Linked DNA regions of Homo sapiens. The protein of the gene in region 2 purifies or fractionates together with the protein of the main gene of each other region. This does not show direct contact. Each region holds a gene or a part of one and is shown on either strand. Other genes may lie near its edges. The genes, in order: DDX21, RC3H2, CNOT1, UPF1, CNOT7, IGF2BP1 and CNOT9.

Region 1 (3,500 bases), on a different chromosome or scaffold from region 2:
TGCCTGCCACCACGCCCGGCTAATTTTTTGTATTTTTAGTAGAGACGGGGTTTTACCGTGTTAGCCAGGATGGTCTCGATCTCCTGCCCTTGTGATCTGCCCGCCTCAGCCTCCCAAAGTGCTGGGATTACAGGCGTGAGCCACTGCGCCTGGCCAAAACTATGATTTTTTTAAATTCCTTAAATCCCTTCCTAATTTATACATCTGCTCTAATAATAAAGCTCCAAGGCCTTGAACTGGGAAGTAATGGAATATAAGAGTAGAGACTAACATTTGGCCCTTGAGCCCCAAGGAAAGAAAGCCTGCCTACATCAAGAAAGAAGCAACCATGCAGAAAGAGGGACAGACCCAAGGTCCTGACAGACAAGAGGAACCTTGAATTCTGACTTCCTATTTCCTAGAGCCCAAATGGACTGTCTTTTTGGGTTCAATAATAAATTACTTTTGTAGCCCCTAGATAAATATAAATAGATAAAAGTCCTAAGAACGATATACAGGATTTGCCTATCATCAAGCAGGACCATGTTCTTGACCATGTTTAAACAATGGCAAAAGAAAATCCCCATAAACGACTATCCTATATAGAGAAGCCAGATGTCAAGGTGAAAAGAAATCCAATCAGAGCAGTCAACAATGGGTGGCATTATACCTCCCTCACTTTTTGAATGTACTCACATTGACCTCCATAGGGAGTTCCACCATAAAAACAAGCCACTGACAGCTTTTTTGTGATGTCACTGAAGTCTTTGCTTACTTGATTTGCCAACTCTCTTGTAGGTGCAAGAACCAGTACCTGATAAAGAAAAATAATTGAATTCAAATTACTGTGTAGTATTTGTTTCTTAATCTAGTCCTTAAAGAACAGCATTCCAGGAAAAGAACGACTTGAACAAGGTCTAACGCTGATGATGACGATAACATTATCTAATATTTTTGTCTAATAGATCTGAGACTCTACTAAATTCTTTATATATATTATTCTGATTCAATTCTTGCAACCTTTTGAGCTAGGTATTAGAGGATAAATAACTTGACTAAACCCCAAAGGCTAAGAAGGAGCAGAGCCTTCAAGCAATTGGGATCCAAAACCTATAGTCTTAACCTCTACAGTAGAGAAAATTTGAAGCAGAACAAAATCAGAGAAGTAAGGTAGAGCCAACAATGTAAGGGGCTTTGAATCCTAGAGCAATATGAATTTGATCTATATATATATAAAACATGAAACTGCTGGCCAGGCGCAATGGCTCATGCCTATAATCCTAGCACTTTGGGAGGCCAAGGTGGGTGGTCAGGAGTTCAAGACCAGCCTGGCCAACATGGTGAAAGTCTATCTCTACTAAAAATACAAATGAGCCAGGCGTGGTGGCTCACACTTGTAATCCCAACTACTTGGGATGTTGAGGCGGGAGGATCACTTAAACCTGCGAGGCAGAGGTTAAGATTGCACCACCGCACTCCAACCTGGGCGACAAAGCGAGACTTTGTCTCAAAAAAAAAAAAAAAAAAAAGTCCAGGTGCAGTGGCTCAAGCCTATAATTCCAGCACTTTGGGAGGCTGAGGTGGGTGGATCACTTGACGTCAGGAGTTCCAGACCAGCCTGGCCAACATGGTGAAACCCCATCTCTACTAAAAATACAAAATTAGCCAGGCATGGTGGTACACGCCTGTAATCCCAGCTACTTGGGAGGCTAAGGCAGGAGAATTGCTTGAACTGCTACAGGTCCTCAAAAATAGGGTAATGGTATGAAACTAATATGATTCAAGAACACCTAATACATTCATCTAAAATGTGCTAGGGATATAGCAGTAAACAAATTAACAAAGGGGGAGCATGGACACTGGAAGGCCAGTGAGCAAGTGAGGTTAGGCCAGAAAGACAACTGCAAGAACCCACAGCCAAAGTGACTACATGGGCATTCGCAGTCATTTCAATGAGGTTAATGTTTGTTAAATGTCAAGTTCTCTAGAAATGAACCCAATGGACTCACCCTAATATGGGGGCTTGGCGTTTTCACCTCTGACTTGCCCTTCTTTCCATTCATGCTTTTCTTTTTTTTTTTTTTTTTTTCTTGAGACGGAGTCTTGCTCTATCGCCCAGGCTGGAGTGCAGTGGTGCATCTCGGCTCACTGCAAGCTCCGCCTCCTGGATTCACGCCATTCTCCTGCCTCAGCCTCCCAAGTAGTTGGGACTACACGCGCCCGCCACCACGCCCGGCTAATTTTTTGTATTTTTATTAGAGATGGGCTTTCATGTTGTTAGCCAGGATGGTCTCGATCTCCTGACCTCGTGATCCGCCCACCTCGGGCTCCCAAAGTGCTGGGATTACAGGTGTGAGCCACCGCCCATTCATGCTTTTCTACCAAAAATGCTTTCTCCATCTAGGCAAAAATGGTCAGACACTTGACGAAAGCTATGAGCCCCAGGGACATCTAATGGTTTGAAGGAAATATGATAGCATTAATTATATAGATGATCAAAACTGTGGGAAAGATTAAAATATTGAAATATACAGAGAATGATCTGTATATATTAATTATTAAATATAAAAGAATTGTCCTGGATTACTTTCACATAAAGATCCACAGTAAATAGAATGGGTGACTATAAGAACTCAATAAAAAATAGTAGGGTATGTACACAATGCCCAAGTGGTGGTTTTTCCTATGCTGACTGAGAGCCCTTGTATTTAAGACAGTTACCTGAGGGGCACGGCCTCTCTTCCTGTCTTGCAGTTCCCCATGAAGTTTCTCAATCAAAGGGATGGCAAAGGAGAATGTCTTCCCAGTTCCTGTCCGTGCCTGTGCAATTAAGTCCTTCCCGCTGTAAACATGATGGAATGTCTTTGCTTGTATAGGAAATAGGAAGGTCACTCCTCGGCCTATGAACAAATTAACTGTGTTATCTCACACTGCAATTCTTAAAACATTAGCCATACTGACATACTGAAGTATACTACTCATGCTTCTGGTCCTGCAGAATTAAGGAATTCTACCTTCTGGTCAACATCTACAAAGTTAGGCTCAAATACGTATATTTTTTAAGAGACAAGGTCTTGCTTTGTCGCCCATGCTGGAGTACAGTGGTGTGATCATAACTCACTTGCAGCCTTGAACTCCTGGGCTCAAGTGATCCTCCTGCCTCAGCCTGATGGACAGCTGGGATTACAGGTGCAAGCCATCATACCTGGCTCAGAAATATTCTGATAGTAAAGAATCTGCTTGACTGAAAAATATCAACAAACTTTAAAGCATCCAATTATAGTAAATATTTGAAGTCTCATCCATAAGCCTGAAAATCTGGTGCTTTGCAATCCAACTGTGCTGCTCCTGATTTAGGAAGCACCTACTTGAGTAACTGTGACTCCAGCTACTTCAGAAGCAGATTATTAAATGAATTCTGGGTTTATGCCTATAAATTAGGCTCATTAATCTAGAGATGCCTCAGAAGTGAAAGAGATAAAACATTAATATGGCATCACCTAATTGCTTAATTTCACCAG
Region 2 (4,748 bases):
GTGAGGAGCCCCTCTGCCCAGCCACCACCCCGTCTGGGAGGTGTGCCCAACAGCTCATTGAGAACGGGCCATGATGACAATGGCGGTTTTGTGGAATAGAAAGGGGGGAAAGGTGGGGAAAAGATTGAGAAATCGGATGGTAGCCGTGTCTGTGTAGAAAGAAGTAGACATGGGAGACTTTTCATTTTGTTCTGTACTAAGAAAAATTCTTCTGCCTTGGGATCCTGTTGATCTGTGACCTTACCTCCAACCCTGTGCTCTCTGAAACATGTGCTGTGTCCACTCAGAGTTAAATGGCTTAAGGGCGGTGCAAGATGTGCTTTGTTAAACAGATGCTTGAAGGCAGCATGCTCATTAAGAGTCATCACCACTCCCTAATCTCAAGTACCCAGGGACACAAACGCTGCGGAAGGCCGCAGGGTCCTCTGCCTAGGAAAACCAGAGACCTTTGTTCACTTGTTTATCTGCTGACCTTCCCTCCACTATTGTCCTATGACCCTGCCAAATCCCCCTCTGTGAGAAACACCCAAGAATGATCAATAAAAAAAAAAAAAAAAAAAGAAAAATACTGATTTTATACCTGTGGAACCTGGGGTTTCCCTTTTAAATTAAAGTAAAAAATCCCAATGATCAGCCAGGCACGGGGGCTCACACCTGTAATCCTAGCACTTTGGGAAGGTGAGGCGAGCAGATCACTTGAGGTCAGGAGTTCAAGACCAGCTTAGCCAACATGGTGAAACCCTGTCTCTACTAAAAACACAAAAATTAGCTGGGCATGGTGGTGGGTGCCTGTAATCCCAGCTACTCGGGAAGCTGAGGCAGGAGAATCGCTTGAACCTGAGAGCCAGAGGCTGCAGTGAGCCAAGATCGTGCCATTGCACTCCAGGCGATAGAGCAAGATTCCATCTCAAAAAAACAAAAATCCCGATGATCTAGTTAAAGAATTATTTAAGAAATCTGGGATTACAATTTTATTTCTGTTATAAGTTTTAAAAGCAATCAATCATCCATCAGAGATAGGCACACCAAAATGCACTCAGTAATGGTATAACCAAGATGCAGCAGCAGAAAACAAATACATTAAGCATGAAGCCGAAAGGTTCAGTTTCTTTACCTCTCCATTTCTTAGTTCAATTTCCTTGCTTAAAAGGTTTAAGGTAAGGTGACGGCCTTCATCCAGGGAATTCCACTTCTGTTGCATGGCCAAAGCATTGGCCTCTCTCTGAAGAAGTAATGAGTTGCTCTTGGCCTATATGAGGAGGGAAAAAAAGAAAAGTTAGCTTCCAACTATAGCTTTCAACTGTCATTCTATTTCTCAAAAATTTATAGCTGAGTTACAGAGCCTACCTGCTGAAGTTCAAGGCTCAAAAGGTCCCCAGTACTGGAATGCTTTCTATGACCAGATAAATCAGTAACAATGAATCTGTCCCTTTAAAGAGAAATATGTTTATTGTAATAAAAGTGAAGTGAATGAAGCAACAAAAGCAGTAATAACCATATGTTTTATGTGACAGATCAACCCTGAAAACTTCACTCATCGTTCCAAATTTAAATGCAAATATTTTTCAGAAATTTGTTATATAGCTCAGACAACAAGCAAAGCACATTTCATGAACTGGGGGTAGAATGTGTACCCTTAAGATACATACAAGTCTGAGAATGGAGAATCATATAGAATTAAGAAGAACGTTACCTTTCAACATAGTGTGCTGATGATGTGGCCTCGTTGCCATATGAACTCCACCTTGAATCAACAGCATTGACATAAGGGACATAATCTACAGACATGTAGAATGAAACAATGGTCAAAAAAGTGAAAAATCAGTGTACTGAGGTGAATGTATACTTCTCAAAATAGATCTGTATTTTATCCCACTAGCCATATGATGCTGGTTAAACACCTAATTCTGAGTTTCCCATGGTTGTTAAATGGAGGGAAATGTTTTCCATTTCACAAGTTGGGGATTAAAAAGCACAGTGCTTAGGACAGGCACAGTGGCTCACATATGTAATCCCAGCACTTTGCGAGGCTGAGGCGGGTGGATCACATGAGGCCAGGAGTTCCAGACCAGCCTGGCCAACATGGCGAAACTAAAATACAAAATACTCTCTACTAAAAATACAAAAATTAGCCAGGCATGGTGGTGCATGTCTATAATCCCAGCTACTTGGGAGGCTGAGGCAGGAGAATCGCTTGAACCCAGGATGGAGGTTGCAGTGAGCCAAGATCACACCACTGCATTCCAGTCTGGGCAACAGAGTGAGACTCTGTCTCAATTAAAAAAAAAAAAAAAAAAGGCATAGTGCTTAGAACATATCAGGCTAGGTATTATCTAAATGGATTACCTGATACACTGATGGGCTTAGTCGCACTTCCTTGGGAAGCAGTGGCCTGGACAGGATCTGTGGTATGGTAACCTGTACGGGAAGATCTGGAAATCGCACCCCATTTTGAGATGATGGGTCCATCACTAAAGGGAATTATTGGATCTTCTTCTTTTGTCCTTCTCTGGGTTTCAAATAAATGTACTCTTCTCTTAACATCACCACTGTCCAGGTCCTATGTAAACCAAAGAAAATCAATAAAAGGACTGTTGGCAATTACTTCAGCTAGTAAATATATGCTATCAAAAGACATGTAATTAGGTTTTTTGGTTAATTTAAAACTAGCTCTAGACTCAACGATAATCCAACAAACTACCAGTAAACCACCAATGTTCAAATAACTTAAATATTAAATATAATTTATTTCAGACTTACCTAAATATAACCCTGCTGCTACTGAGTTATAAGGCAACAATATGAATGAATGAATAGAAAACATTCATTCTACAACATGAGTGAACATGCATCATCTCTCACCTCCAACCCCTGCAACCCCAGCAAAATCATACCATTAACACAGCATTTGAATTAGCAATGACATCTTTGGGCTCTGAATCAATGGCATTTATACAGGAGCCTATGGTGCCACAAGACCAGGGAGAATAATGGGAAAGATGATCTTCTTCAAATTTTGTACCACTCACACTCTCTGAGAACTGGTTAAAAAAAAATAAATAAAGCCAATTAGTAAGAAGCTTAAATTTACAAGCTTGTAACTAATATAAAGTAACTATTATAGAATTCAGAGGACTTCATAGCAAACAATTATACTTTTTCAATAACTAATATAAAAAACTGTAATAAGCAAGAAATGGTATTTTTACAATAGAAAATGGCATGCTTTCCCTTTTCACTTTGTCCTTTAAGTGCTCATATGGAACATTTGACTAATACTATCAAAACCAATTAACAAATATTTATAGTATGGTACTAACATGGTATGGGGTGCACCAAGAAAAAAAAAAGTAAGAGAAAACAAATACATAGATACACACAGAGATCACAGTCCATATCCTAAAGGAGTTTATAATTTTCTTTTTTCTTTTGAGACAGGGTCTCACTCCCACCGCCCAGGCTAACATGCAGTGGGGTGATCACAGCTCACTAGCAGCCTCGACTTCCCAGGCTCAGGTGATTTTCCCAGCTCTGCTTCCCAAGTAGCTGGGACTATAGGCACACGCCACTATGCCCAGACAATCTTTTTGTATTTTTAGTAGAGATGAAGTTTTGCCATATTGCCTAGGCTGGTATCAAACTCCTGGGCTCAAGCAATCCACCCACTTCGATCTTCCAAAGTGCTGGGATTATAGGCATGAGCCACTACACCAAGCTGAGTTTATAATTTTCTTGAGAAAAAGAACATGTGCAAATAAGGGAATATAACTGATAAATTATGCAGTATCAAAGAACAAAAGGAATTCAAAGGAGGCTCTGGAGATAAAGGGGAAATGAATAAATTTTAAAGGGACTGTGAATAAGGAATACTTATAGGACCAGAATACTAAAGTTATAAGAATCATTAAATCTAGTTTACTAATTATTCAGATAAAAAAACTCAAGGGCAAAAAAGTTAAAAAACTTTTCTCAAGTCGAACTCAGCAGATCGGAGTCTCAGGGAAATACTCATTTCCTGAAGCATAATTGTATATCAAAAAAGAAAATACAAGTGGCATCTAGCAAGCAAGTGGCATCTAGCAAGCAAGTGGCAGCTCTGTCACTCTGTTGTCAAGATATTTACCTGCTTTGAAGAAGTCTAAGTTTGACAAGACCTATTTGGATCTAGTTTAAAAATTCAATGCTTTATTGAAATATTTATGGGTTAAAAAATATAATGCCTAGGATTACTTCAAAACAATCCAGGGGGAAGAGGGGGTATAAATAAGACAGTACTGACTGAGTTGATAACCGTGGAACCTGGGTGTTGGGTACATGGAGTTTATCATATTATTCTCTCTATACTTGTATATGTTTGAAATTTTTTATAATGAAAAGATTTTAAAAATTTTAATATCAGAACTTCTGGGGATGGGGAATAAACCAGAAGAAACTTAAAAAAGAAATTAATGGTTTTCTCCAAATATAACAGTACTGAAAACACCAGATTAAATTAAAATCATCCTGGTACACAAACTTGTTTGGTAATGCCAAGAACAATAATTAGCAGTGATGTAAAGAGCATAAATAATACTGTAGGTATTTCTGCACTTCTTGTTAAGTAGGGAAGAAATACCTCAGACAGCCCAGGATTCATATCCCAGCTATTTACAGCTGAAAGATCTTGGGCAAATTACTTAACTTCTGTAAGATTCCTACCCTGTAAAATATGGAAAATACCTGCCCCCTAAGGTTTTTGTGAGAATTAA
Region 3 (4,748 bases), on a different chromosome or scaffold from region 2:
TCATACTGCTGCATATTAACCAAATGATTGCGAATTAGCAGCTCCACAGCCTCCACATTATATTTATATTCATCTCGACATTCAATTAGGCACCTAGAAAAAGTTCAATATCTTTACTCATATAGGCTTAACCATACTGTAAAAGGGCCCATTTTACTCAATGGAAATTTGCTCCAAACTAAGAATGCCTTGAGATTCAACTCCAAATCAGTGTCCAAATTTAAAAACAGCCAGTAATGAAATAGAACAGATAGCCCAAGCTTTCCTTTCAAATCCTAGGATACAGAGTATTCCATTTAAGACATTAAAATACTTATACACGAATACCACTTCTGAGAAATCACTGTAACCTTTTAAAACAATGACCTACAATTTATTCCCCAAAACAAGGTACTGGTTTTCTATATCCAACATGGGGAGAAGGTAGAGACCAGATGGAAAACAACTACTTAACAATTCTCACCTCTCAGAAGTAGGAAGTCTAAGTGTCCGACCTACCTACTAGAAAAAAGGGAAACCCCTGGACATAAACAGTACTATCTATGTCAAAAGGCAGTCGCAGTCCAATACTCACTACTTTTCGAAGATGGCTACTGACCTTGTGATCTGTTTGTTGCACCATGGAGACCCATATGCCCGGCCATCCTGCAGAGCTTTTAGGACCAAGAGGTGGCATTCCCTGTAGCGCAGCAGAAGGTCAGCATCAGCACCACTTGTGGCATCTAGTAAGCCCTCTACAGCCTATGGGAGAAAGAAAGCGTTCAAAACCATGAAAAATACAGTGCTTGGCCCAACTATCACAGCCAGAAACCAAATCTCAATGCCAAGTACCAAATACCTTCCAAAGCCTCCCTGTCCTTTCCACTCTCCAAACATCCCTTTCAGTTGCCTATCACACACACTCTAAATTCTATCTGATTTAAGTTCATTCTGTGCTCTTCATTGTCATAAAAGGCTCTGCTGTAGTTAAAATCCAGGGCTCCCTACCTACCCTGATCCAAATTATTGGATCAACTTGTCCCTCAAAATCTAAAGGGCAGCTGGGCTCAGTGGCTCATGTCTATAATCCTAGCGCTTTGGGAGGCTCAGGAGGGAGGGCCACTTGAGCCCAGGAGATTGAGAACGACCTGGACAACAAAGCAAGACCTGTCTCTACAAAAAAATTAAAAATTAGCTTGGCTTGGCAGTGAGCACCTGTAATACCAGCTACTCGAGAAGGTGATGTGGGAGGTTCACTTAAGCCCATGATCACATCACTGCACTCAAGCCTGACAGAGAGAGACCCTGTCTCTTACACACACACACACACACACACACACAGACACACACACCCCTCTAAAGGGCTACCTTTTAAAGTTTCTTCAAATCACATTTCCAGAATATCTTTAAGAAAAAAAATGAAGATTTCCAAGTTTACCATTCAAAACTGCCATGACTACATTCTACGTTGGAAAAAAAAAAAATCACCTACTTACAGAACTTGATTTATATTATGAAATCTTAAGCATAACTGCATAAATATGTAGATGGTGGTGCAGGTCAATAAATGTTTACACACCTAGCATTTTCTAAAAGTAATAGCTTAAGAACCAACCTTTTGGAGCAATCCAAGAGCAGCTATGGCATCCCGAGAGTTTCGAGATAAAACTACAACCTCCAAGAGACTTCGAAGAGCCTGAGCTTGAGGGTTCATGGCCAAAGTTGGTGGGATGGCATGTAGATGTTGCTCCAGTTCTGTAATACACTTATCATAAATCTGAGCTACATCATCTGTTGCCCAAGCTTGCTGTTTTACAGAAGGAAACAACCAACAAGAGACAAAAGAATGTTAAGGTTTTTTATTGACACATGTATCAAATAGAGGTCTACTAGTATGTTTACTCCCTTTTTCTTATTTTTACATTCAAACATGGAGGGCCTCTTCTTTTCCTTCTTCCTGAGCTATTCAGAATTAATACCATCAAGTGGCACAGTACAAGGCAGGCATAAGGGAAGAGGTGTTTCATTTGAGAGAGGAAAACCTGGCAGACAGCAGCATAATCAAGTGATAAAAGAGAGCATTAGTAACAATGAGACAGACTGAGGGCAGCACCACTTGTACCATCTACTAAGCCCTCTATATCCTAAGAAAGTAAGTGTTTCAAACCATGAAAAATACAGTACTCAGTCCAACTGTCAAAGCCTGATAGGATAGAGTAAGAATACAGCATTACTTCTGAGCTATTCCTATTTTTAAAAACACATTACCTGAACCTAGTCATGAGAATACACTGGACAAACAAATCAAGTCATTTAGAAAATAATTAGCCTATAATATTCAGAAGTGTTATGGTCATGAAAGATGAGGAAAAACTGAGTTACCTACACCAGCTAGAACTGAGGGAGACTTTAAAAATATGACAACTGAAGAAATGTGTGATTCTAAAACAGGTCTTTTACTATACATTATTGGGATACATGGTGAAACTCGAGTGAGGTCTATGAATTAGATGGAGTAAGGTTATTAGTATTCATTTCTGACCTTAATGGTTGTACCATGGTCACACAGGAAAAGGGTTTTTTAAGAAATACAAACCAAAGGAAAAAGGTTTTGTAAGAAATACAAACCAAAGGATTCAGGAGCGATGGGGGTATCAGGTCAGCAACTTACTATCGACCGGTTCGGGGGAAAATATTTTTCCCTATATTTCCAAGTTTTCTGTAAACACCTTTGAAAATTTTAGAAAATTCTTTTATTTAAAAAATGGGAAGGCTGGGCACAATGGCTCAGGCCTGTAATCCCAGCACTTTGGGAGGCCAAGGTAGGCGATCACTTGAGGTCAGCAGTTTGAGTCTAGTCTAGGCAACATGGCAAAACCCCATCTTTACAAAAAATACAAAAATTAGCTGAGCATGGTGGCACACGCCTGTAGTCCTAGCTCCTCAGGAGGCTGAGGTGGGAGGATCGCTTGAGTCTGGGAGGTGGAGGTTGCAATGAGCTGAGATCGCGCCACTGCACTCCAGCCTGGGTGACAGAGAAAGACCCTGTCTCAAAAAAATAAATAATAAAATTTAAAAATAAAAAACCGAAAGTTATTATGTTACCATGAGAATTCCCCTAATTAGGCCGAACATTAAAGTTAAATCACCCACACCCATGTCAATTTTTCTTTAATCCCCTGTATGTCATACTTAATTGGACACAAAGAATACCTACAACTCAAAAACTATAGGTGTTTTTTCCCCTGTAAATTATTCTCCCAGGAAGCAAGTCAAAAACATATATTAAATGTCAAAAACATTTAAATTAATTGGCAAAACACTCAATTTAATCTAAAACACATTTACCTTCATGGGCTGGGCTAAAAATCCCGTGGGCTGACTTAAGTCATTTGTAGGTAAGAAGCCAGGAACATTGCGTGCAAACTCTTCGTAAACAGCCAACTGCTTTGGGTCCACACCACCAACCTTGAAAGAAGAAAACCTATTTTGACAGAATTCACTCAATAATCAAAATAAACTGTTTTGAAAGTGGAAAGTCTGCATGTGGGTAAGCTCAGGGACACAAGAGTCATTACAACATATAACAGCATGATTAAGCATGCACGCACACACAAATGCAGTTCAGAAGAGGGCTTCTCATTTCCCTGAATCCTGCTAAGAGTCACCTCATTTATAAATTAACTGAGAGTTTCTCTTGGAAAATGCCTCACATGGGACGATGCCAGTGCAATTCTCCCTTGAAGCTGGTAAATATTATCAGATTTCTCACTGTCTCACTGGGAACAATAAGCAACCATTAATGTGAGAAGCCCAAGTTGGGAAACATGAAAACTAGCAGGCACATGAACTCCTTAGAGTAATAACACTTCAACAACTCTGGAGGAGCAAGGGAATTTAGAGCTATTTCCATACCTCCTCCACAGGCAGCCATTCAGTGAAATGCTATCAAGTTAAGATGTTTTCTCATAAACAATATTTAACCCTGCTGTCCTAATTCCAGTAAGGAGTTCAATCAACAACAACATTAAAAATAAAACAAAGATGGGACGGGGAAAGACAGAGCCCCAATTCTCACTTTCAGCCTGATTTGCTCTGGCATCCGTTCAGCTTGATATGTTAAAACAACAGGATCACAGTATCTGCGTCCTTCTTGCCTAGCATGTTTTCTCAGCTCAAATTCCTGCAAACAAAAAAAGTCACTGAGGTTCTTGTTATAAGGCACTTCCCTAAATTAAAAAAGAAAATCTTAAAAGGCAAATTCTAAACACTTACAGTTGCTAATCTCTTGTCCATCTCAGGGCCTGCTTTTTCTACTGCAGTCTTCTGAATAAAACAGCAAGCCAACTCACAATTGTCCTGAGCTAATTGAGCAGCTGCCTGATCCATCATTTCTCTTTGTTGTGGGGAAGCAGTCTATTAATGGAGGTGGGTGGGGGGGTGGGGGGAATAGAAGGAAAAAGACTTGAAAGTTGATGTGGACAGACAGGATAGTAGAAAATGCAGTGCATTTGGCAAATGCATTTTAAGTTCTGACTCTACTTATGAACAAGCTGTGATCTTGAAACAGTCTTAACAGCTTCCTCACTTTTAAGACAAAAATATCCTAGACACCTTATCAGTTTATTGTGAACATGCCTTAAAATCAGTAAAGCAGGCCAGACGCGGTGGCTCACACCTCTAATCCCAGCACTTTGGGAGGCCAAGGCAGGTAGATCACTTGAGGCCAGGAGTTTGAGACCAGCCTAGCCAACATGGTGAAGCCACTT
Region 4 (4,134 bases), on a different chromosome or scaffold from region 2:
AGCAGACAGGATGGGGTAGGGTGGGGTGAGGAGCCACCCTGACTAGCAGTGAAGGGCACAGGCCAAGCTGGCCCTGAGGGCCTATGACCCCCACCAGGCACAGCACACATTTCCAGATACCACCCCTCCAGTGCAGCTCCCTGGGGAGAGCCCCCTCCCATCCTTCTCCTTGAGGCTGGGGTGGGGCCAGGCCTGCTCCAGGGGGGCTTGCCTTTTAATACTGGGACAGCCCCGTCACCCCGCCATGCTGGTAAGCCCGCTCTCCCTGGTACGTGGAGTCCTGTGAGAGCGCCACGTCGATTTGTGATTTAAACTCGTCACCAAGGTAACTGTCCTGAAAGACAAGGTCAGGAGGTAAGCAAGCCACAGGCCAAGGGTGCTCACATCCACCCAGCCCTCAGCAGCCCCAGAGAAAAGAATGGAAAACCCGTCCCCAAACTAAGACCCAGGAGACCCACTCTGATGACCCCAGCCCAGGGACAGGTAATTCAGACAGTGGACATGGGCCAGGCCAGCTCTCTGGGGCTCTTCAGAGGGAATGTTTCAGGTGCATAGCCCCACCCTCACTCAGGTAAGTCCCGTCCCAGGGGCGGGCTCACCTGGGACAGCTCCGGCTGGGAGAGGCCGGGCTGGCTCATCTGGGAAGGCTGGCTCATGGAGATGTAGCCCTGCGTCAGGGCGCCCTGAGAGAAGGGCTGTGACGCCACATCCTGGCTGGCTTGGCTGTTGGGGAGGTTAGTCTGGCTGGGTCCAGGAAGCCCAAAGCGGTTCTTCTGGCGTCCCCCACGACCAGTCTTGCCTTTCGGGGTGCCTCGCCCTGAAAGACAGCAGTCCAGGGTGATCCGAAGGAGGCCAGGGCCTCGCAGACAAGCACACCCTCAAGAGCTCTCAGGAGGGCCACACCCAGCCGCAGCCACAGATGCTCACCTGCAGCAGGCCCGTTGGCTTGTCCAAAATAGCCAGGCGGTGGCATGGGTGGCATGACCAGGTTGAAGGGGATGGGAATGTTCATGGCAGCCACGTGGCTAGGGCCGGCACTGATCATGCCAATCTGGTCATGGGTCTGGAAGTACATGCTGGAAGGCCGGCCTGCAAATCACAGTGGAACACGGCAGGTGTCACCTGCCTCGGTCAAACCCCAGCGATACCCCACCCACCCCACCAGCCAGTCAGCCGGAGCTGCACATCTGTCCTGGCTCTGCCCAGGCTGAAGATGCGGATTCGCAGGACTCCATGTTAACTACAGCAGCCTGCCTGGGGCTGGGTGCTTGGGCAGGCACCTTCCCCGAGGAGAGTCTGCTGGGAATCATTGGCCTACACAGATCTTAAAAACTGAAAATTGGGGCCGGGCGTGTTGGCTCAAGCCTATAATCCCAGCACTCTGGGAAGCCGAGGTGGACCACCTGAGATCAGGAGTTTGAGACCAGCCAGGCCAACATGGCGAAACCTCGTTTCTACTAAAAACACAAAAACTAGCCGGGCATGGTGGTGGGTGCTTGTAATCCCAGCTACTCGGGAGGCCAAGGCAGGAGAATCGCTTGAACCCAGAGGGGGAGGTTGCAGTGAGCCAAGATCACACCACTGTACTCCAGCTTGGGCAACAGAGCGAGACTCGGTCTCCAAAAAAAAAAAAAAAAAAAAAAACACCTGCAAATTGGCCAGGTGCAGTGACTCACGCCTGTAATCCCAGCACTTTGGGAGGCTGAGCAGAAGGACTGCTTGAGGCAGGAGTTTGAGACCAGCCTGGACAACATAGGGAGACCCTGTCTCTAAACAAAAAAAAGAAAATAAATGAAAATCACCCTGCATTTACCAAAGGAAAAAAAAAATCCTTTTTATGAAAATGTTCTATTTGTACTACATGCAGTCCCTGCCCTACCAAAAGGCAAGAAAAAGCTAACTAGCTTGATCACCAGGAAACACAAATGAATAAACTCTGGTTAAAGACAAACACCCCAGGAGTGTTCCGGGGCTAGAGATGCCCTAGGGGCGGGGAGGCCAAGGGAGCCAGGCACCGCCCTTGAGGGGAAGGAAAGATGGGGGCACCTAAAGCTGCAGCCATGGGAACGGCCAGCATCCCGGTGTGAGGACAAGGGGTCGGCCAGGTCCCCTGCTGAGCGACTCACCCTGGCTGCTCCGATCATAGACGGAGCCTGGGATGATGGCCTCCCGGGCATCATACATGGCTGTGGTCATGAAGCGGGCTCCCTGCGAAGGTTTAGATAGGTGAGGAATTTGTCATCTCAACAGAAGGAACAACTTCCCACGGGCCCGGTGGCCTGGGAGGTGGCAGGTATGCAGCTGTGAGGTGTTGACACTGTGCCAGGGGCTCTCCCTGGAGACAGGAGGGAGCTGCTGTCTCATGGCCTCTGGGTCTCGCCTGCCCTCCTCGGCAGACCTGGGCTCTGATGCTGACCCTTGGGCCTCAGCTCAGGAAGCTTCACACCCCCTCACTACCAGATCACCCCGGGCTTGCAAAGCTTCCAACTGCCCGTGTCCAAGGTCCCAGGCTGCTGCATGCAGCACAGCAGCCCTGAGCCCAATTCCCAGAGGCCACCCAGGACTTAGCGGCCCCAAGCCAAAAATGCCACACACGGCTCGGGAGACAAGAAGTGGGCTGGCCCACCCTCCCCTAGGAGAGCCCACCCTCCCCTAGGAGAGCCCTCCCTCAGCTCACGGGCACACGGGCCAAGCTGGCACGTTCCCAGCAGTGTTTTGGGCCCGGGTTTCTCCGTGCTGCCCTGCTGTCCTGTGCAGGCGCTCACCGGGTTGATAGTGTTGACCAGCTTCCGTGGCTTGCTGAACTGCATGAGGCTCTCACGCAGGTTGTTGAGCGGCCCCTCCACCAGCACCTTCTGCTCCTTATAGTAGTTCAGCAGGTGGTTCCAGAGCGGCTGCTTTGATAGTGCCTTCGGGTTGCCCACAATGATGACGCCATACCTGCAACAAGGGCGCAGTGCTGAGGACGCAGGTGGAGAGCTGCCCGTCTCACAGGACGGTCCAAGAGGCAAGGCTGCATTCACTCAGAACCCAAATCCAAGGCAACAGAGGCGTGGACCGGGCAGCAGGCAGGCTGCCAGCCACAGGGACAGGCCCCAAAGCCCAATGCCAAGCCACTGACCCTGCACACGGGTTGATTTTGTGGCCGACTCTAAGCAGCCCCATGGCAGACACCTGGCTGGGTGGATACGTTTGGAGAGAAGACCTGCTGTCAAGAGAGTCGGCCTTCCAGGCACCGGGGCACACGCGGCCCCACAGGGCCCCCAGCAGGCCGGGGCACTGACCCGATGCCCAGCTCCTCTAGCCCACCTCACGAAGCTGTGGGGGGACCCACCCAATACTGCCCACCAAACAAGAGGGCGCCTTAGAAAGAGGGAGTAACCAATGACAAAGCCATGGTGACCTAGAGGAGAACCACCGCGCATATGAGCCGGAAGGAGCACCAGGCTCTCTCCCTGTGCTGGGTGGAGCCACAGGCCAGGTCCCCCCAACTTCCAGCTGGTGAATGGGTCCTTGCTGTCTAGTGTTTTTTTTTTTCCTTTGGAGACAGAGTTTTGCTCTTGTTGCCCAGTGGCTGGAGTGTAATGGCGCAATCTCGGCTCACCACAACCTCCTCCTCCCAGGTACAAGCGATTCTCCTGTTTCAGCCTCCCAAGTAGCTCAGATTACAGGCATGTGCCACCACGCCCGGCTCATTTTTTTGTATTTAGTAGAGAGGAGGTTTCACCATGTTAGGCTGGTCGAGAACACCTGACCTCAGGTGATCCACCTGCCTCGGCCTCCCAAAGTGCTGGGATTACATGTGTGAGACACCATGCCTGGCCTGATGTCTAGTTTTATGTGGGATGACAGAATGGACACCTTGTTCTCGGGGTCCCTTCTGCTATCATCAGTTCACAAAAGTTGTATTTTAGAACCAAAAATAGTGGACAGGACCAAAACTTACAGCCTCTCAGATTAAACAACTTGACAGACACACACAAGATTTATTTTGAATCAGACCAGAAGGGCCTGGAAAAATACGTCCTGCTGGGCTGAGGCACAGGGGCCACAGCAAACCCCCAGGACACGGAAACAAAGATCTCTCCAGTGAGACATCGTTTCTCAACTGCTGCTCAGAGTCCTCTGACCTCT
Region 5 (4,748 bases), on a different chromosome or scaffold from region 2:
AAGATTGGGGGGAAGAAACAGAGAATGTGAATTACTAATGTATTTGTTGAATGCGGAAAAAGTATCATTTAATAGAAAACAAGATCCTAATTGGGAAAATGTATTTTCATCATGTTTTAGGGCATATGACAGGTAAATACTCTCCTAGATATGGGAAGGAAGCAGACCACATATAGGGTAATATTTATCAAGTACACTCATAGTCTATCAATCCAGTAATAATTATAAAACTGAAAAGCTAGTATAACACCATTTTTTTCATATTTTCTTAAACTTCCCACCATCCATTTGTAGTTTTCACTTAATTTTTACAAAACAAAGCCATTATGAATAATCATTAAGAGTATGCTAAATGCTTCACTATGGTTTTCTTAGTTAAGACGAGTATATGCACACAACTCCTTAGAGTGGTCTGCTATAATCCACCTATGTTAATACTCCTAAGATTAAAAAAGAAAGATGAGAGTGGAAAGAGTGGAAAGAAAGAAAGAGAAAGACAGTAACAGAAGGAAAGAAAGTGGGAGGACAGGCAAGGAGAGTAAAGGGAGGGGAGAATAAGTAGAGCGTGAAGGAAAGAAACACCAACAACAAAACAAAAATTCTTCTCTAACTTGTTAAGGCCTCCACCGGCAAAATGGCCCTTCTGTGCATCACAGCTTGAAACAAGGCTTTGCACAGCAGTTGCTTCTGCGCTAAAAATAGCACGAGGATTAGGTATCGTTAGCAGCTGCTTAGGAGAACAGAACTAGAACTGAATAGAACAGCATGGCTGACTATAGGTCAAAAAGCACCTTTGTCGTTAACCTGAATTTTAACACAGCAGCTTACTCAGGACACATTCAGAATATCTGTACTTAGAAACTTCCCAGTAACAACCACATGATGAGCAATAATTTGGTTCCCTGTTCCTGAAAACTATCATTATACAGACATGTCAATTAAAAAAAAAGTCAGATGAAAACATGTAGGCCTCAGCATGCAGTGCTTTCACAGGGTGGGCTGAATTTCTCAAGCAAGGGATACCCTACTGCAAGTTCACTTCCTGGAAGTCCCCTCAAATTACACAGAAGTCTACTGCTACAAACATAAAATAATCTTTCTTGAAAATTTCTCTAGTCATATGCTGACCATATCATGTATTAAAGGTAAACACTGGCCAAAAGAAAGCTTCTCATCTTCAGTTATCTGTTAAGACCAGCGTGACCAACACGGTAAAACCCCGACTCTACTAAAAATACGAAATTTAGCTGGGTGTGGTGATGGACACCTGTTAATTCCAGCTACACAGGAGGCTGAGGCAGGAGAATCACTTGAACCCGGGAGGCGGAGGTTGCAGTGAGCCGAGACCACGCCACTGCACTCCAGCCTGGGCGACAAGAGCAAGGCTCCGTCTCAAAAACAAAAAAAGAATTAATGTTTAGAATTTAAAAATACATGTTATGCAGCGTCAAAATGTTACTACTATCTAGGCAGGACCTACACATTTCCCATAGTACTTAACTGTAACAAGCTGACATCTTTTGGCCACAGAAAAATCTTTTAGCTATATAGTTTAATCCTAGGAGCATTATCCTATCACTAGAACTGACAAAATAATTTCTAGCCAAGATAAGCCAAAAGGAAAGAAAAACTTTTGCCACACTACTAAATACATCTGCATATCGCTGGCCACCTTAGATTCCACCTTGTAAGAACAGATTCTATGCGTCTTGGGAGAAAGTAACAACTCACAATGGCGTGCATATGAGAGCCTCAATGTCCTCAGATTTGTGTTTTGGTTTGTGATTTTCAATCTGGCAAGCAGTGACAAGAACCGGACCTAAGCCTGAAATGTGTTGAAAATTCTGCCTTCTGCCAAGACATACTGAAGCTCTGAAAAAAGGATTCCCTACAAATTATGTATGCAAGAAAAAAAATCACATGACCAGATAATATAATTGCATTCACTGTAATACTTTAAAATATGGTTTAAAACAACATCCCAGCCTAGGCTCGCATGACAGTCACTTGGTCTGAACAGTGTGCTGCTGTAGATAATGCCATCCGAAGCCTTACTTTGAGATTTTTGCAGCTCTTCATGAGGTACTTCACATCATAAATGACAGGAAAAAACAATCGAAGGATCTCAAAGAAGTCAAGTTCTTCTTCAGGCAAGTTAGAGTTGGTTAGGATTTTGATTAAGTAGCCAAAGTCGTAACCGCTATAAAAGGGTTAAAAGAATAGAGAAGAGGGACATATAAATACTATAAAGATTAAAAAAAAAAGTTTTTCTGATTCAAATTTAAGCAAGTCACACTAGAGCCCTCCCAAAAACATTAAAGAGAAGTGCACACAAGAACAGAGAAAACAAACATATTGAGAACTATGAGAAAATGTCGTCATCTTACAGTATTAAGAACTTTATCACTTTATTATTCAGAGATATCAACACAGACCTACACTACCAAACCAGCCTATGGTCAATAAAATACTATTTTGTTGATATCTGAATAGAGAACACCAAGAAGAGTATCAAGCTGCCCACAGATGTCTCAAAATATTTTTTAAAGTAACTATGGAAATGGAGAAATAAAGATGAATGGAAACTTGGCCAGAAGAGTTAGCAAAGGTAGCAAGAGAACTGGCATTCGGTAGACAAAAGTAATGCAAGTCATCCCACTTTTACATAAGGTGGTCATATACTTTATCCAAAGAATAAGACTGTAACAAGGTATTTTCACTTCTCTTAAATGACTGTGTTAAGTAGTCTCTCCCTTTTCTTCCTTCACAATTCTCTTCCTTTCAGTGTGGCTCCCTAAGAGTCATTATTAATGGAAATGCTGCACATGGAAGAAGTGAAGGGTAGTAAAAAAATAACTACTCTCTTGATCATAAAATGCAAACTCCTACACTCTCAAATCCAGAACTCTTCTCCCTTTGTCCGGCCTTTCGCACAGCTTTCTGTCTCCCTACACTCCCAGGCCACTTAGACACGTCCGTCCCTTGTCTACCTTTCCTTCCAAGGACCTCTAACAGGAAGCCTATATGACATTTGCTCACTAACATTAAAAGATTATATTAGCGCTTAGGATTTATAAACTTCTTAAACTATTCTTCATTACTTGAAATTAGAATATGAGGAAAACAACTAATGATATTTAATGGAATAAAATCTTCTATCTTGATAAATATTCAAATATATCAGTCTAACTTAGATTCTAAACTCCAAGAAGACATGAATGAACCCTGTTTGTTTTTGTTCATCTTAATACCCAGTGCCTAGTGCACTGTATTTTGTCAGAGTATTTTTTAAATGAAAGGGTATGTCATATACAGTAAAAGGGAAGGGCAATACTTTCCAGTTCTTTTGCACCTTCATATCTAGGGAAGAAAAATGACTAAAAAAAAGGTATTTGTATCAAGAGTCTTAAGTTATGTTTCCTAAGGTACAAGTTCAAGTGCAGAAGAGACAAAAAAGATGATAGGTAAGAATGAGTGTGTTCAGTACCTACAACTCAACCATTTCTGGTTAGTACACATCAAAGTTGCCCACATGAACAGTCCTTCACTATAAACATCCCACAGATCAGAGACAGAAACTAAACATGCAGGAGACTCAGATTTAAGATACATGTGTGAAGTGGACCAAGTATGAGAGTATTAACATCTATGTAACACAATGCTTTTTCAAAACCTAACAAAAGCCAATATCATTCTGAAGGTTACTTTTAGTCCCTGGAACGTCAGTTTAGTTTACTTAGATGGGAAAACTCTTTTTCATACCTGGAAGTCTATTTCACAAAATCGGAATAGTTTCCTTACCAGAAACACTCTTAAATAATCTAGTTTCATAACAATAAAGAATTTAGAACCACCACTTATTGAGAATTTACTGTTTATAAAGTATTTTGGTGACCATTAAAACAAGTCTTCAAGCTATTTCTTCTAAGGGATGCCTTATCACTTTAAAAAAAAATTAAAATCCATCTCCACACCCATCCCTAGCATTTTCTTTGCTGTTTTGAGATAGTACTTATCACTATCTAACAAATCACAACGTGAACTCCATTTTTAAAAACTGTCTGCCCACCCCCATGAGAATATAAACTCCATGAGGAAAATAATTTTCATCTGTTTTATTCACACCTTAGTTCCTAGAATCTCATCTCAGTGCCTGCCATATGGTAAATACTCAATAACGTTGTGTAAATGTAAGTGAATGGTTTCCCCCGTAGAACATTAAAAACTAAGGTGTAGAAATAGTAAAAGAAAACCCTGGGTAACACCAATTCCAAATGGCGCCGCTGGATTTAAACCAGGGTCTTTCACTTTTTAGAGAACCTGTACTGTTTCCACTATGCAACATGCTTCTCACAGGCAAAAATGGATCCCATATTTTAAATTAACCTTTAAGCAGACCAACATTAGCCTCCTAAGAGTTAGGAGACAACTCTATATGGCAGTCAACTCTTTCCAGAATTAAACCTGAAATTGCTAACATAGTGACCCAAGTAAGTGTGGAGCAAGTATGAGATGGAAAAACAAATGCCATTTTCAATGTAGTCGTTTTACCTATGAAATGACAACCATTTGACCCCTTCACAGAGGACCACTCCAGAAGTCATAAGAAGTTCTGCAAAGTACTGGGTTTCAATTCCTTCCTCCTCATGTTTTTTAAACTGGATACCAGATGTTGTTAGTAGCTCTATAGAGTCCTGGGCATACATGTCCTCCCTGGCAGAAGAAAGAGAAAGACAACATTCAAACAT
Region 6 (3,500 bases), on a different chromosome or scaffold from region 2:
GGCCAGGATGTCTCGGATCTTCCGTTGAGCCATCTGCAGCAAGAACAGGCAAGAGAGTGGGTGTGAGACCTCCAAGGAGACAGCCTTCCACGGAAGAGAGGTCATCAGGTCCAGACACAGGCAATAAACAGAACAGGTCACACAGGACTCAGAAGAAAGATAAAGAGGAAGAATGAGGGTTGGGGTGACCTTACATTTCTTTGCCTCCAGTGGAGCCTGAGTATCCCCTGGAAAATACAGCAAACGTGGTGGGTGTTAAGTGGGAGATGGGGTTGGGGGACTTGAAGGAAGGAGAAACAGTAGTATCAATCCATTCATCAGAATTTAAAACTTGACAAAGTTGATAAACATTACCAAACGCAAAACAGAATGCCTAGAGTTTCTAGGCAGAAATATATTACATATTGCAGAGCAGTGGTCCCCAACTGTTCTGGCACCAGGAACTGGTTTCATGGAAAACAATTTTTCTTCCACGGATGGAGGTGGGGGTGGGGAAGTGGTTTCAGGATGAAACCTCAAATCAGCATGCAGTAGATTCTCATAAGGAGTGTGCAACCTAGATCCTTCACATGCACTGCGCATCCCTCGAGCACTTCACAACAGGGTTAGCCCTCCCATGAGAATCTAATGCCGCCCTGATCTGACAGGAAGCGGGGCTCAGGAGGTAATGCCCACTCGTCTGCCGCTCACCTCCTGCTGTGTGGCCCGGTACCAGTCCGTGGCCCGGGGTTTGGGGACTCCTGTTGTAGAGGGTCGTAACTTAGAAGACATCATCACAAATCCACGCTTCATTTTAATACCCCAGGAAAAGGAATAATATGTCTAGATATGGCCAGGTGCACGGTGGCTCATGCCTGTAATCCTAGCGCTTTGGGGAGCTGAGGCGGGTGAATCACCTGAGGTCAGGAGTTCGAGAGCAGACTGGCCAACACGGTGAAACCCCATCTTTATTAAAAATACAAAAATTAGCCGAGCGTGGTGACGTGCGCCTGTAATCCCAGCTACTTGAGTGGCTGAGGCAGGAGAATCACTAGAACAGGGGAGGCGGAAGTTGCAGTGAACTAAGATTGTGCCACTGCACTCCACCCTGGACAACACAGCGAGACTCCATCTCAAAAAAAAAAAAAAGTAAAAATAAAAAATAAAGTCCAGATATGGGTTAGTCAAAAAGCATAAATACATAAGCTTCACTGTAAAAATGGACAAAATACCCAATCTTTTATTATTTCCTTCTTAAAAGGTTCTTCCCTAAGAATAAAGTTTTATAAAGGAAATAAACTGCAAAATGGGATTCACTTCATAGAATGAAGACCAGAATGTCTCCTTTCCATAAATGAGTGCTTCCTTTCCTGGTTAAAGAAGCAGCTGAGGCTGGGCATTGTGGCTCATGCCTGTAATCCCAGCACTTTGGGAGGCTGAAGCAGTGACATCACTTGAGCCTAGGAGTTTGAAACCAGCCTGGGCCACATGGTGAAACCTCATCACTACAAAAAAATACAAAAATTAGCTGAGCGTGGTGGTACCTGCCTGTAGTCCCAGCTACTTGGGGGGCCTGAGGTGGGAGGATCACTTGAGCCTGGGAGGTAGAGGCTGCAGTGAGCTGTGGTCACACCACTGCCCTCCAGCCTGGATGGCAGAGCGAGACCCTGTCACAAAAAAAAAAAAAAAAAGAGGAAGTTGATCTAGGTTGGGAAAATAATGTGTAAGTCAATAAGAGGTCCAACTCCATCAACCCTGGCTTGATGTTTTACATAGCTTTTCATTTAATTCTCATTCTGATCAGCTAAAATTGCTTCAGTGTTTAATATTAATATATCCTGGCTTTATGCATCTTTGGAGGTATCCTTTACTCTCTTTAAAAAAAAAACGCTGAATTAAAGATTCACATTTACCCTCTTAAGCTTCATTTATAAAATGAAATTGTTGTGGGAATTAAATGAGTTAATATACATAAGCCACATAAAACAGTGCTGGGTATACAAAGGCATCGATAAATCTTAGATATTATTATTATTATGGCTCTTATTAATACTTTTTTGTTATTTTATATATATATATAGTTGAGATGTAACTAAAGCCTCTTGTTAATACTTCTCAAAGGGTTATCAGAGAAAGTTACTTATCCAAGGTCACATAGCAGAAAGGCTATGTATGTGAAGTTTGAGGTCAAAGCTCCCTGGATCCAAAACCTTCATACTTGATGCTATACTATATGGGCACTGGAAGCCAAAAAACCAAGAGCCAGTTTGCCCCAATTGCTCTAGCAGCCCCAGCAGACCACAAGCCTGCTAAGATCTGGATATCTTCTATGAATTGTAGGAACTGTGATCAACAGTCTCCAAAGTTCCTTTCCAGTTCTAACAATGATGGATTTAAGACTTTAGGAAAACACCATTAGCTGCCAACCACCTGTTTGCTTGCCTTGCTGAGGTTCAGCAAAATTTGAACCTGATATTGGCCTTCCCTTCCATGCTCTGGAGCCTGTCCGAGTGCTGAACGGCAATGATGAGTTCTGGGAAAGGAATGGGAGGGTGGAAGAGCAGAAACCAGGGAGAGAACAGCCATTCTGCGAAAGGCAGAGGGACTACATTTCAAAAATGCCATCAATCCAGGGTGTTAGTACTGTTATCATTATTCCATGAACAAAACTAATCTTCTTTCTTAACCAGTGCAGAAAGGGGTTAGGGAGGGACTAACGTAGAACATATATATATATATTTACATATAATATATATTCATATATATGTTATTTATATATATAATGTTATACACAATATATGTACATTAAACTTGTCAAATCACTTTTCCTAGAGAGTAATAAGAGGTAATATGTCATCTACACATCCCACTTCTGCACCTGAAAGAGGGCAATAACCTAGCCTAGAGGCAGGCAGATGTGGCTGAGGCCCCAGGACTTGTCAACGTCATGAAGGTCAACCTCTATAGAGTCTCTGCTTCTCTGCTCCCTGGGCTCCTGCAGCCCTCCCTCAATGGGGGAGCACCATATGTACCTGACTGGCATAGAAATGTCCGATGATTTTCACGATGACCTGGTCGTTCTCATCAGGGGTCTGGTCTCTTGGTACTACCACCTCAGCTGCCGTCAAATTCTGCAACTCGTTCACCTGGGGGTGGCCAGAGAGGAGCTCAGGGTGCCATCAAGAAAGCATGGGTGGGGTTGGAGGGAGGAGCCAGGGTGACTAGTGGGGAGAACCTGGAAGAGTCAGGACCTGAGCTTGGGGAGTAGAATCAAGTAAATGAGCAAATCAGGAGTCCTGAGGTTGAGCAGTACAGGAGACCAGAGAGAGCTGCTGAGATTGGAGACCAAGGCCCAGGGCTTTCAACCTGGCCCTCACAGCTCACCGTTTTTCCACCTTTGCCAATGACCCGGCCAGCTGCTGATGCTGGCACACGTATGTGGGTCTCCAGCTTCACTTCCTCCTTGGGACCAAAGAAGTTCTCCTCCTTGAGTTTGCCATAGATTCTTCCCTGAGCCTGAG
Region 7 (4,748 bases), on a different chromosome or scaffold from region 2:
TCTTTGAATTTTTAATTTACTAATACATTTCTAAGGCTGTGGCTGATATGGAACTCAATCTAGTAGCACACATTGCTCACTGACAGGCAAGCAAATTAATCTATGACTTCTCTACTGGAAATTACCTTATTTGAAGCATTAATAATAATTGCAGGATACCAACCAAGAGAGCAGAGGTTGACATTTTTTGAGGCCCAGACCCTTTAAGAATCAAATGAAGTCCGGCACGGTGGCTCACGCCTGTAATCCCAGCACTTTGGGAGGCCGAGGTGGGAGGATCACAAGGTCAGGAGTGTGAGACCATCCTGGCTAACATGGTGAAATCCCATCTCTACTAAAACTACAAAAAAATTAGCCAGGTGTGGTGGCAGGCACCTGTAGTCCCAGCTACTTGGGAGGCTGAGGCAGAATGGCGTGAACCCGGGAAGCGGAGCTTGCAGTGAGCGGAGATTGCACCACTGTACTCCAGCCTGAGCCACTGTACTCCAGCCTGAGCTACAGAGCAAGACTCATCTCAAAAAAAAAAAAAAAAAGAAAAAAGAAAAGAAAAAAGAAAATTGTGGATCTTTTACTCAGAAAAATACACAACTGCAAAAACACGAAAACCTACACATAATTTTAAGGAGTTCACAGAGTTCCTGCAATGTATCCATGTACCCAGGATTAAGAATCTGTTTATCAAATTGAAGAACAGGAAAGACCTCAATTTGCAAGGAACTACATGTGTATATAATTGGAACACACACTGGCGTGGGAGCCTGAAGTGACTTCAAAATCCAGTTTTGCTCTTTCTAGAATTGTGTGACCTAGGATAAGTCATTTAACTTTCCAAACCTCAATTTTCTCATTGTTAAAGTGAAGGAACTATATTAAATAATTGTCAGTCTCAGGCAACTCTAAAATCTTAGAAATTATTTAGTTCTTAGTTGTGAGAGTCTAATCTAAGAGGCTCTTTTTTTAAAAAAAAAACTTTGACGTATAATTTGCATACAATAAAAGTGAACTCATTTTAAGTGTACGCTTCAATAGATTTTTGAGAAATTTATACACCTAAGTAACTGCTACCATAATGAAGATATAGATCCATTCACCCCAAAAAGTTCTTTAATGCCCTTTTCAGTAAACCCCATACTCAGCCTGAGGCAATCATGGGTGTTTTCTGCTACTATAGATTAGGTCTGCCTTTTCCAGAAATTATTAATATGCAGTAATATTTATTGAGCATACCATGTTTCAGGCACTGTGGATTACATCATTTTATTCTCAAAATTCTAAGAGGAAACAGGTTAATAGAGGTTTAATGTGCTCAAGGTCACACAGCCAGTGTACAGCAGAATGAGACTGAAACTCTACTTCTCTCTAGAATCGATGAGTTCTATCTGGTCTCAAGGATAGAAAGCACAAATACTCCTCCAAGTTGAAGAAATTACTCTTAAGAACCCAAAAAAACTTTCTTAAATTTAATATTCCCTTAGCACAGAACTCATTAACAGCTGGATTTGGATACACAGTGAGCTCAATTACATACCTGGACACATAGAATCATCATGAGAAATCTGATTTAGATTATGAGTTATCCTTAACACTTCCAAGAATAGAAAAAAGCTCTATAGTACATTACCGTAGATTATTAATTGTAACCTGCTAAAGTCAACAGTCCTGGCCAGGCACAGAGACAGGTTCACACCTGTAATCCCAGCACTTTGGGAGGCTGAGGCTGGTGGATCACTTGAGGTCAGGAGTTTCAACACAGTGAAACCCTGCCCCTACTAAAAATACAAAAATTAGCCTGGTGTGGTGTCGTTTGCCTGTAATCCCAGCTACTCAAGAGGCTGAGGTGGGAGAATCGACTGAACCCAGAAGGTCGAGGTTGCGGTGAGCCAAGATCACACCACTGCACTCCAGCCTGGGTAACAAAGCGAGATCCTGTCTCAAAAACATAAAATAAAATAAAAAAATAAAGTCAACAGTCCTGTTCTTTTAATAAGTGTGTTAAAAAACTTTCATATTATCAAAATTTAGGTGGTAACTCTCCCTCCTTTTCTGTTTAATGATTTGTATATGGAAAATGTATTTCAAATGACACCTTTTTTCCCCAAGAAAGCTTAACATACAGATAAGGTATTTACCAAAGTAAGTTACCAATGGTTAACTCCAAGTGTCACACAGGGTACTGACAGTTTAAGTTGGTCTTCTATTTCTGAAAGATTTTAACACATAATGTGAAAAGTATAAAGATGTTTATAAATTATTTTAAATAAAACATGACATTTATCTATAAATGGTAAAGAAAATGATTTCCTTCTCTGAGTAAACTAAAAAATTGATGCTGATGGTTTCTTAAACAGAAAATAGCCAAATTATCAATGTAACTTTATGTTTAAGGGCCAAAATAGCTGTTTATTTTCCTGCCAATACATAAAGAATGGAATCAGACTGAAATAGAGATTATTTTCCCAAGTCTGGAGATCAACACGTGGATTTGGGTGTCAGCATGGTATTCCAAGAAAATGAACTTTCTAATAGTGCTGGAAGTACTAAATTAGCTTACCTTCATAATTTTATAAGAGCCAGAATGTATCTTTTTTTTTTTTTTTTTTTTAAGATGGAGTTTCGCTCTTGTTGCCCAGGCTCGAGTGCAATGGCACAATCTCAGCTCACTATAACCTGCGCCTCCCAGGTTCAAGCGATTGTCCTGCCTCAGCCTCCCAAGTAGCTGGGATTACAAGCGCATGCCATGACGCCAGGCTAATTTTTCTATTTTTAGCAAAGACGGGGTTTCACTACGTTGGCCAGGCTGGTCTCGAACTCCTGACCTTATGATCCACCTGCCTCAGCCTCCCAAAGTGCTGGGATTACAGGCATGAGCCACCATGCCCGGCCCAGAATGTATTTTTTCAAAATAACTTTTAAAAAATGAAAGTGAATAAGGAAAGATAAGTTAGGCAATTTGCCTAAAGCTTCATCAGGAGACTCGGGAGGAGAAAGTGAATTAAATCCTTTAGAGTGCAGTGTTCTTTCTACTTGCCAAAAAGGAAGGCATCTGGCAGTCCATGACAGCTTCAATAAAAAGATGTAAAATAACTAATGATGCTGCTGGTTAGGCGGAAAGTGAGAGAAAGACAAGTGTTTAGGGATGCTAGAATTGTCAGTGGAAATCAGTGGGAAATTAAAAACAAAACAAAACAAAAACACATCCCCTAAAGGCTTACCTCCGGTTGTTTCACAAGCATAACATCCATTACAGAATACCTATGGCATGCAAAGATTTGTAGTTTTCTTTTTCCTTTGAGACAGGGTCTCACTATGTCGCCTAAGCTGAAGTGCGGTAGCATGATCATGGCTCACTGCAGCCTGGAAAATTTTTAAACATTTTTTGTAGAGATAGGTTCCTACTGTGTTGCCAAGGCTGGTCTTGAACTCCCGGCCTCAAGTGATCCTCCTGCCTTGGCCTCCCAAAGTGCTGGGATTATAGGTGTGTGAGCCTTTAATTTGGGAATTAAATTCCCAAAGCTGAAGTCTGGGAACAAGTCACATATCAGTGAGTGAATCTAGCCAACCACTGAGCATTTTGTTATTCTTTCTTTCATTTTTTTTTAAAGATGGAGTCTTGCTCTTGTCTCCCAGGCTGAAGTGCAATGGCACGATTTTGGCTCACTGCAACCTCCACATCCTGGGTTCAAGTGATTCTCCCGCCTCAGCCTCCTGAGTAGCTGGGATTACAGGCGCCTGCCACCATGCCCAGCTAATTTTTGTATTTTTAGTAGAGATGAGGTTTCACCACGTTGGCCAGGCTGGTCTGGAACTCTTGACCTCAGGTGATCTATCCGCCTTGGCCTCCCAAAGTGCTGGGATTACAGGCATGAGCCACAGTACCCGGCCGCATTTTGTTATTCTTACTTAATCTTTAGAATAATCCTGTGTGGTACTTCTGTCCTTATTTATTAGAGGAGAGAAAAAAGAAATTATGCTCAATGGTAGCGGTAATGAATATATGAAGATGTTAGGATGTATTCCATCAAGAATGACAACAGCAAGGTCGGGCGCAGTGGCTCATGCCTGTAATCCCAGCACTTTGGGGGCTGAGGCGGGCAGATCACCTGAGGTCAGGAGTTCGAGACCAGGCTGACCAACATGAAGAAACCCCATCTCTACTAAAAATACAAAAAAAAAAAAAAAAAATTAGCCAGGCGTCGTGGCTAATGCCTGTAATCCCAGCTACTTGGGAGGTTGAGGCAGGAGAATTGCTTGAACCCAGGAGGCGGAGATTGCTGTGAGCTGAGATCTCGCTATTGCACACCAGCCTGGGCAACAAGAGCAAAACTCTATCTCAAAAAAAAAAAAAAGAATCACAAAAGCCTACTACACTAAACATTTCTAGCATACGACTACTCAAGAGTCAAAATTTAAGATACTTCCCATACTATCTTAATTTTTCCTTCTAGTGAATAATATCCTGCATTTACATGTGACTACATTCTCTCTCTCTCTTAATAGACAAAGTCTTGCTATGTTGCTCAAGCTGGAGTCCAGTGGCCATTCACAGGTGCCTTCATAGCACACAGTAGCCTGGAACTCCTGGGGTGAAGTGTCCTCCCTCCTTAGCCTCCCAAGTAGCTGGGACTATGGGCACACACCACCCGGCTTACATTCTCATTTGGCAGTACTTTGTTATCTCCCTAGCTGAAATGATGATTTACCTACTATTTTAAAAAAGAGATAAATAAAGTCACAGATACACACTTTCA

Evidence for each region.
Region 1: the proteins of RC3H2 (region 2) and DDX21 purify together in Homo sapiens (affinity purification with mass spectrometry, with the first as the bait; 2 studies listed by BioGRID). This does not show direct contact.
Region 3: the proteins of RC3H2 (region 2) and CNOT1 purify together in Homo sapiens (affinity purification with mass spectrometry; 2 studies listed by BioGRID, with this or other methods). This does not show direct contact.
Region 4: the proteins of RC3H2 (region 2) and UPF1 purify together in Homo sapiens (affinity purification with mass spectrometry, with the first as the bait; 2 studies listed by BioGRID). This does not show direct contact.
Region 5: the proteins of RC3H2 (region 2) and CNOT7 purify together in Homo sapiens (affinity purification with mass spectrometry; 2 studies listed by BioGRID, with this or other methods). This does not show direct contact.
Region 6: the proteins of RC3H2 (region 2) and IGF2BP1 purify together in Homo sapiens (affinity purification with mass spectrometry, with the first as the bait; 2 studies listed by BioGRID). This does not show direct contact.
Region 7: the proteins of RC3H2 (region 2) and CNOT9 purify together in Homo sapiens (affinity purification with mass spectrometry, with the first as the bait; 2 studies listed by BioGRID). This does not show direct contact.

What each region holds. Positions count from the first base shown.
Region 1 is NC_000010.11:68,962,670-68,966,169, reverse strand, and holds part of DDX21 (nucleolar RNA helicase 2), read right to left. Parts: intron 2,880-3,500; coding exon 2,701-2,879; intron 794-2,700; coding exon 676-793; intron 1-675.
Region 2 is NC_000009.12:122,852,838-122,857,585, forward strand, and holds part of RC3H2 (roquin-2), read right to left. Parts: intron 3,042-4,748; coding exon 2,895-3,041; intron 2,561-2,894; coding exon 2,347-2,560; intron 1,779-2,346; coding exon 1,694-1,778; intron 1,430-1,693; coding exon 1,348-1,429; intron 1,250-1,347; coding exon 1,115-1,249; coding exon of another isoform or gene 1,037-1,114; exon of another isoform or gene 957-1,036; intron 1-956. UniProt on the Homo sapiens protein: Post-transcriptional repressor of mRNAs containing a conserved stem loop motif, called constitutive decay element (CDE), which is often located in the 3'-UTR, as in HMGXB3, ICOS, IER3, NFKBID, NFKBIZ, PPP1R10, TNF and in many more mRNAs.
Region 3 is NC_000016.10:58,538,174-58,542,921, forward strand, and holds part of CNOT1 (CCR4-NOT transcription complex subunit 1), read right to left. Parts: intron 4,396-4,748; coding exon 4,255-4,395; intron 4,163-4,254; coding exon 4,058-4,162; intron 3,448-4,057; coding exon 3,328-3,447; intron 1,787-3,327; coding exon 1,595-1,786; intron 742-1,594; coding exon 599-741; intron 94-598; coding exon 1-93.
Region 4 is NC_000019.10:18,862,244-18,866,377, reverse strand, and holds part of UPF1 (regulator of nonsense transcripts 1), read right to left. Parts: intron 2,941-4,134; coding exon 2,766-2,940; intron 2,209-2,765; coding exon 2,127-2,208; intron 1,090-2,126; coding exon 928-1,089; intron 818-927; coding exon 600-817; intron 335-599; coding exon 215-334; 3' UTR 212-214; intron 1-211. UniProt on the Homo sapiens protein: RNA-dependent helicase required for nonsense-mediated decay (NMD) of aberrant mRNAs containing premature stop codons and modulates the expression level of normal mRNAs.
Region 5 is NC_000008.11:17,232,661-17,237,408, forward strand, and holds part of CNOT7 (CCR4-NOT transcription complex subunit 7), read right to left. Parts: intron 4,714-4,748; coding exon 4,552-4,713; intron 2,201-4,551; coding exon 2,056-2,200; intron 1-2,055. UniProt on the Homo sapiens protein: Has 3'-5' poly(A) exoribonuclease activity for synthetic poly(A) RNA substrate. Its function seems to be partially redundant with that of CNOT8.
Region 6 is NC_000017.11:49,045,885-49,049,384, reverse strand, and holds part of IGF2BP1 (insulin-like growth factor 2 mRNA-binding protein 1), read right to left. Parts: intron 3,496-3,500; coding exon 3,364-3,495; intron 3,126-3,363; coding exon 3,012-3,125; intron 34-3,011; coding exon 1-33. UniProt on the Homo sapiens protein: RNA-binding factor that recruits target transcripts to cytoplasmic protein-RNA complexes (mRNPs). This transcript 'caging' into mRNPs allows mRNA transport and transient storage.
Region 7 is NC_000002.12:218,571,173-218,575,920, reverse strand, and holds part of CNOT9 (CCR4-NOT transcription complex subunit 9), read right to left. Parts: intron 1-4,748. UniProt on the Homo sapiens protein: Component of the CCR4-NOT complex which is one of the major cellular mRNA deadenylases and is linked to various cellular processes including bulk mRNA degradation, miRNA-mediated repression, translational repression during translational initiation and general transcription regulation.